2 linked regions of the Homo sapiens genome follow. Changing the gene in region 2 together with the main gene of any one other region gives a genetic interaction. Each region holds a gene or a part of one and is shown on either strand. Other genes may lie near its edges.

The links.
Region 1: of ESR1 (region 2) and TFF1, changing one enhances a phenotype caused by changing the other (phenotypic enhancement), as found in Homo sapiens cells (one study listed by BioGRID).

What each region holds. Positions count from the first base shown.
Region 1 is NC_000021.9:42,363,736-42,367,855, reverse strand, and holds the start of TFF1 (trefoil factor 1 precursor), read left to right. Parts: upstream 1-1,320; 5' UTR 1,321-1,360; coding exon 1,361-1,445; intron 1,446-2,743; exon of another isoform or gene 2,744-4,120. UniProt on the Homo sapiens protein: Stabilizer of the mucous gel overlying the gastrointestinal mucosa that provides a physical barrier against various noxious agents. May inhibit the growth of calcium oxalate crystals in urine.
Region 2 is NC_000006.12:151,943,682-151,947,181, reverse strand, and holds part of ESR1 (estrogen receptor), read right to left. Parts: intron 3,010-3,500; coding exon 2,674-3,009; intron 1-2,673.

The DNA.
Region 1 (4,120 bases), on a different chromosome or scaffold from region 2:
ACTGACTAGGTCACCCAAGAAAAGATAGTACCTTTGTTAGGCTAGCATGCATTTTCCTCAGGGCCTAATTTCTCACTGAAGAAGAAAAGATTTCTCCTGTTGTCCATTTCTTCATGCAGCTCTTCAACAGCTGTTTCTCGAATGCCAATCAAAGCCACTGTTCTAGGGTCTGGGGCCACCTCAAGGCACTAGGAGATGAGGACTTCTGCTCCCATGCGCCCTCCCGTCTGCTGCAGGGAGGAGTGCAATGAATAAATAACCAACATAATGTGTCAGTCACTTGTTTTATCCACCAGGAGGTAATAAGAGCTATGAAAGAGAAAGCTCCGAGCAGGGGAGGGGAGTGAGGCATGGTACAGGAGAGCAGGAGGCTGTCCTCTAAAATACAGGAGTCCAGGGGACCAACTGGGAAGGTGTGGGAGGGGGAGGGAGGGAGCCCCATAGACACAGGGGAGTGAACCACGTTCACTTTGTCAGTTTTTGATGGCAGCTCGTATATACTATTTTTTTCTCCCTCCTGCCCCCAGCCCCTCCCAGAAGGAGACTTAATCTGTCGCTCAGGCTGGAGTGCAGTAGGGTGATCTCGACTCACTGCAACCTCCGCCTCCCAGGTTCAAGTGATTCTCCTGACTTAACCTCCAGAGTAGCTAGGATTACAGGCACCCGCCACCATGCCTGGCTAATTTTTGTATTTTTTTTTTTTGTAGAGACGGGGTTTCGCCATGTTGGCCAGGCTAGTCTCAAACTCCTGACTTTAAGTGATCCGCCTGCTTTGGCCTCCCAAAGTGTTGGGATTACAGGCGTGAGCCACTGCGCCAGGCCTACAATTTCATTATTAAAACAATTCCACTGTAAAAGAATTAGCTTAGGCCTAGACGGAATGGGCTTCATGAGCTCCTTCCCTTCCCCCTGCAAGGTCACGGTGGCCACCCCGTGAGCCACTGTTGTCACGGCCAAGCCTTTTTCCGGCCATCTCTCACTATGAATCACTTCTGCAGTGAGTACAGTATTTACCCTGGCGGGAGGGCCTCTCAGATATGAGTAGGACCTGGATTAAGGTCAGGTTGGAGGAGACTCCCATGGGAAAGAGGGACTTTCTGAATCTCAGATCCCTCAGCCAAGATGACCTCACCACATGTCGTCTCTGTCTATCAGCAAATCCTTCCATGTAGCTTGACCATGTCTAGGAAACACCTTTGATAAAAATCAGTGGAGATTATTGTCTCAGAGGATCCCCGGGCCTCCTTAGGCAAATGTTATCTAACGCTCTTTAAGCAAACAGAGCCTGCCCTATAAAATCCGGGGCTCGGGCGGCCTCTCATCCCTGACTCGGGGTCGCCTTTGGAGCAGAGAGGAGGCAATGGCCACCATGGAGAACAAGGTGATCTGCGCCCTGGTCCTGGTGTCCATGCTGGCCCTCGGCACCCTGGCCGAGGCCCAGACAGGTAAGGCGTGCTTCTTCCTGCTCTGTGGGGCCACAGCCAGCTCTGGCAGCCTCCGCCAGGAGCCACTGTTTTACATACATATTTTTGAGCACCTGTTTTGTGCCAGGTGCTGTTCTAGGCCCTTAAAAGTATATCCAATTTACAGGATCGGCAAAAGCAGGTGGAGAGTAACTCAGGGTGGCAGGGCCCCCGGAGACCTTCGAGAAGTGCGACGAGGAGGGGGCTGCCTTCAGTCGGGGCTGTTTTCCTGTGTTAGGAAGACTATACAATCCTCCCAAGTGTCATGTTTCAAAGAGGAAGTGTTGGCGTGGGGTCTCAGAATAGTGCTTTTGACTGTTCATGCCAACATCTCCCCCAGGGGCAGACCCTCCCAAGGCCCATCCAGATAGGCCCAAATGCCGGTCCCAGTGATGGCCACCTGGGAGACCCTCTCCCACAGGCCCGAATGCCCGTCCCAGTGGTGGCCAACTGGGAGACCCTCTCCTACAGGTTCCTGGGCTCCCCTGGGATCCATGCTCTGGGAGTCAAAGCCACCTCTCTCATGAGTGCGTGGCTGGCAACCCATATTCCCTGGTGTTGTCAAGTGGATCGGTTGCCCTGGGTCCTTCTAGGGAGTGGAGGAGGAGGCCATTCTTGCTTCCTTGGGAAGTGTTTGCATCTCAACTCCTTTACCTGCAGAATGGATCAACGGTCTGCCCTAGGGCTGTCAGGAAATGCTGTGTGGCAGCATCTGCGACTTGCACTTTGCCAGCTGTGGGGAGCTGAATAACTTATTTGCCGTTATTAGGTACAGTTTCAAGGTGGGGGCAGGAGAAAGGGCTTTCTACGTTTCCAAAGCAAGGGTTTCCAGAGAGGCCTGAAGAGGGAGCGCCCAGTGGTGCTGTCCGTGCCCCCACTGCCCTCCAGCCACCTCTTGATCTCTGCTGTGGGGTACCGGGCCTGAGGGGTGGGCTTGGGCAGCGTAGAAGAGCAGCCAGCATTGGGCTGCAGTGGGAAGACCCCCAAGCCCATGGCAGGGAGCGGGGGAGCTTTGGAACCCGAGAGAGGAAGTGGCCTCGGTGTACAGAACGAACTGGGTGGGTCCCCGTGCTGGCCACCCCCAGGCCCATCTGCCTGCGCCCTTGCCCCCACCCCAGCCCCCAGCTCTGCCCCCTGTGCTGTGGGATCACAGAGGCCGTGGCAAACTCCCCTCCCCACCCCACACACCCTCTGGCTCAAGGCTCAGAGCGTCTTTGCGGGTCACTCAGGTCCATGATCCTGTTACAACTGAAATCTAGAAAATTGTGATTACAGTTTAGTGCATTCGTGTGTGGAAACCATTTCCATTTATTTCCATCATGCGACAAAGACAAAGCGGGTGGGCAAGACAGAGTCTGCCGGAGGCAGAGCACCGGGGCTGGAAATCTTCCTCCCTGAGGAGGAAACCCCCCCGACCCCCAGGATGATGATCCTCCCTCACCACGGGGCCTCTCTTGACCCCCACAGTGTCCCGGGGGTGGGCGATGATCACCTTCACGTCGCGATGGATCCAGACCCCAGGAGGGCAAGGTTCCCATGGAAGCTGCTGGGCAGCGGGAGCTGAACACGGATCCTTCCCAGCAAGCCAGGAACACTTTCTCCAAAGACATCTCGAGGCAGTCCCTGATAGCAAAGCAGACAAGAGAACAGCCCCTCTCGGCCTCCCCTGGGGCGCCCTCACCTGAGCCAGTGTGGCCAGACTGAGTTCCTCCCCTCCTATGCCCCAAGGCAGGGACAGGGACCGGAGGGTGCTCTGGGCTCCTCTTTCACCCCCTGCTGCAGGCTGTCAACCACCAGATCCTAATAGGTTGCTTTCTGAGACCTTTGATTCCGCGGAGCTCAGAGCCTGAAGCTCTGGTGTTAGAACCTCTTGCATAAGATCCTGCGGCAGCCCCCAGCCAGCCCCATCTGTCCACGTGTCTTCCTCCTCTAGATCCCTTTCCTCACTGCCCTGCTTCAAGCTGTTTCACAGCTTGTACCCTCTGTCGGCTCCTCCTAGACCACCCCACCCGGTCCTCTCACCTTACCTGCAATGGGTTTCCACCTCCTGAACACACCTGGGTCTCTGGAATGGCCTTTGCCCATGCGGCTCCATCTTCACCTGGTGAACCTCCTCCTGCAGGGAGCCCCCCTGCTTTGTTCAACCTGCTTGTCATTGGCCTCTCCGGGGAGTGCCCTACCCCCGTGGTTACCCTGGGCACCCTGGGACGATGGCCTTGCGTTGTCTCGCACATGTTCTTGCCTTTCTCCTCCATCAGATCCTTAGACTCTTTTTTTTTTTTTTTTGAGATGGAGTCTTGCTCTGTCACTCAGGCTGGAGTGCAATGGTGCGATCTTGGCTCACTACAACCTCTGCCTCCTGGGTTCAAGTGATTCTCCTGCCTCAGCCTCCCAAGTAGCTGGGATTACAGACGTGTGCCACAATGCCCGCCTAATTTTTTGTATTTTTAGTAGAGATGGGGCTTCACCATTTTGGTCAGGCTGGTCTTGAACTCCTGACCTCAAGTGATTCACCTCCTTCAGCCTCCCAAAGTGCTGGGATTACAGGCATGAGCCTGGGCCCAGATATTTAGACTCTTATTAATGACTTCTCTGGTTTTAATTTCTGGGTCTCTCTCACCTGGCACAGTGCCTGGCTTTTGCCATGCTAGCTCCCA
Region 2 (3,500 bases):
AAGCCTGGCTAATTTTTGTACTGTTTTGTAGAGACAGGGTTTTGTCATGTTGGCCAGGCTGGTCTTGAACTCCTGACCTCAGGTGATCCACCCGCCTCGGCCTCCCAAAGTGCTGGGATTACAGGCATGAGCCACTGTGCCCGGCTTATTTCCTCTTTTAAAACTTACTATTATTATTGTCATTCTCAAACTATTATCTCATAAACGTTATATTGTCTATATCAGATATTCAGTGTGGGCTATGTTTTTTAAATAACAGATGGTATTTGAATATATAAAAGATATAAATCCTTTTCAAAATGTTGCTTTGTCTATTTTTCTGAAAAGTTTGACAACCATCTGTAGAGCTTTTGCAGAAGACTTTTTTCTTCCCTCACTTTTAGTCTCTTTAAAATCAATGACTATTTTTATTCTGCTTGGTCAGGCAAGTAGGCCTTTGATTTACAACAGCTGTATTCCCATGGAACACACACAAACACACATACATATAATTTCATTTTTGCCTTTATAATTCTTTTTTTTAATTATCAAGTAAGAAGACATAGTTTATTGGTCTAAGGATTTTGGAATCATTCAGGTCTTTTAAACGAACATGATGAAGTTACAGAGTGGTTTTGTTACACATCTCATTGCCATAATTTTGTCTAGCTCTGGCTTTAATAATTGTATTTTAACTATTGCTAGCCTGTGTATAATATTTTCCTTTCCTTGACTTCTCCATTTTATTCCTAAATTCAGAAGATTATTGATGTGAATTCTTCAACCACTGGTAATGTATTTGAGCTTAATTCCAGTTGTTTAAAATGCTCTTCAACATTATTATAAAAATGTCATGATGGGAATCTACTGATACACATGAAAATGTCTGTACTTGAGTTCAGCAGTGCTCCAGAGCTAATATTCCCAAGATTTCATAAGGGAAAATATATGTTTACAGGAAAATAAAACTGAACAGCAACCAAGAGTTGGCTCTCAAATATATGACCATTAGTTTCTTTGCTTGTTTGTTTGTTTCTCTTTCCCTATAATATAAGAACAAGGCAATAACAAATATAAAGAAAAAACTTACAGCCATATTACAATTAGATTCCAACAATTAACTTATAATGTATCTGCTTCATATGAAAATGCTAAAATATGTAGGTACTCAAGAAAACTTTTCATTCTGAAGATGACCAGAAATTTTTGTTTGCCAGTTCGACTGACACTGAAAACCTACATTTGCCTATTATTCTCCATGCTTCCATGTAAACTAATAACCACTCAACCACCAAAATGGTGGCCTCTAACAAGGCTGGGTTCTGGTACTGCTGGCTCCTTATTCTACGGCCCACATGTTTATATACTGATAGATGCAAATACATGTAAGATTCTCTAAGGCCAGACATAAGTTCACTTGGCCTATAACAGAGCAGTGACCCTTGAAATGCAAGTACAAACTCCACATTTTTTTAGTTTCATATAAAACATTTCATGCTTCATAGGAAACAATTAATTTCATCTATTAAAAGAAACCAAATGAGAAAACCTCCAACTAAATCTATCACTCATTTAACCTATAAGCCCAGAAAAAAAATTTAGCTTCTTCTTGCCTCGGTTTATCTACATTAGCTCCTGAACGAATACACTGGGGCAGGGAGAAAGTCATTTTCTAGTCTTGTTGCCATACAAACTTGAGTTCTTCTCCCTGAATAACAGGAGTAACAGTCCAATTTTACCAGAACACCAGTTCTGAGAGAATCAACTGAAGGAACAAGGTATCACTTCAGCCACTGTGTCTTTCTAAAAGTTTCTTTCAGGGATGATACCTTAATTTATTTTTCCATTGCCTTTCTCTTTCTCCTAAAACACTAAGCATACACCAGGTTGGATAAATAATTGGCATTCAGTAAATACACTTATTATTATCTTTTTAATCCATAAAGATCTTTCTCTTTTTTTGTGTGGTTTATTTTTTATGACACGGTCTTGCTCTGTCACCTGGGCTGGAGTGCAGTGGCACTCCACACAAACATGGTTCACTGTAGCTTTGACCTCCTGGACTCAAGCCATCCTCTCACCTCGGCCTCCCCCATAACTGGGACCACAGGTGTGTGCCACTGCATCCAGCTAATTTTTAAAAATTTGTTGTAGAGACAGGGTTTCGCCACGTTGCCCCGGATGGCCTCAAGCTCCTGGGCTCAAGCAATCCTCCCACCTCAGCCCCAAAAAGTGCTAGGATTACAGGCACGAGCCACCACACCGAATCTTAAAAATCTTTTTAAGATAAAATCGTTTGATTAATAATTGAGATGTTTTCAACAAAGGTCATTAATATTACAAACTTTTGTAGTTCATTTAGTGTTAAAAGTTTCTGCTACTGTGAACATACACTATTAAATAGTTTTACCATGTAGTGTCCACCCTAAATCTTTTTGGTAAATGAGATGGGTTAAAAATAAATTATGTCAATTTAAGAATTTCAGTCTTCTAGATTCTGATTTAAAAATATTATTTCCTAATCTCCTGGAAAATTACAGTGTATTGATACTGAAAATGAACACATCTCCTGTAACCTTGAAACCAATTACATAACATGTTATTGCTTCTTTTTCCCCCACTATTTCTCCCATGACATCACAACAAGTTCTTGAAAAGCTATTGACTCTTAAAAGCTGCGCTTCGCATTCTTACCTGGCACCCTCTTCGCCCAGTTGATCATGTGAACCAGCTCCCTGTCTGCCAGGTTGGTCAGTAAGCCCATCATCGAAGCTTCACTGAAGGGTCTGGTAGGATCATACTCGGAATAGAGTATCGGGGGCTCAGCATCCAACAAGGCACTGACCATCTGGTCGGCCGTCAGGGACAAGGCCAGGCTGTTCTTCTTAGAGCGTTTGATCATGAGCGGGCTTGGCCAAAGGTTGGCAGCTCTCATGTCTCCAGCAGACCCCACTTCACCCCTGCCCTCCCCATCATCTCTCTGGCGCTTGTGTTTCAACATTCTCCCTCCTCTTCGGTCTTTTCGTATCCCTGAAAACACAGGTGGAAAAAAAAATTAGTTTATTTTTTTCCCGTGTAAACTTTTATACAAAAAATTTTCAAAGCTAACCAGCTTTCATTTTATTTGAAGAAATACTTTCAAGCACAGGTGAGCTGGTAAGTGTTCAACAAGTGGCTCTCCAAGAGAAGAAGAAAAAGATTTCTATTTGTAGCAGTTTTCATGGTGTAAATACTACCACCATAACATGCCAATTTTCATGGTGTAAATACCACCACCATAACAAACTTCAGGCCACTTGTCTGACATCAAATGGCTTACAAAACTCCTGAAAATTGAACAGTAGGCTTTGGTGAGCCCATACAAACTGATTCCGACACACTAGGTAGGGGTGTGTGTGTAACAGGTGTTATAAAAAGAACAGAATTCTAATTTTAGTTATTCTTAAAATAGAATTTAGCATCCAAGACTACTTCTGCTAGGAATATTCTTTTAATAGTAAATTAAAAGGGCATTTTTAAAA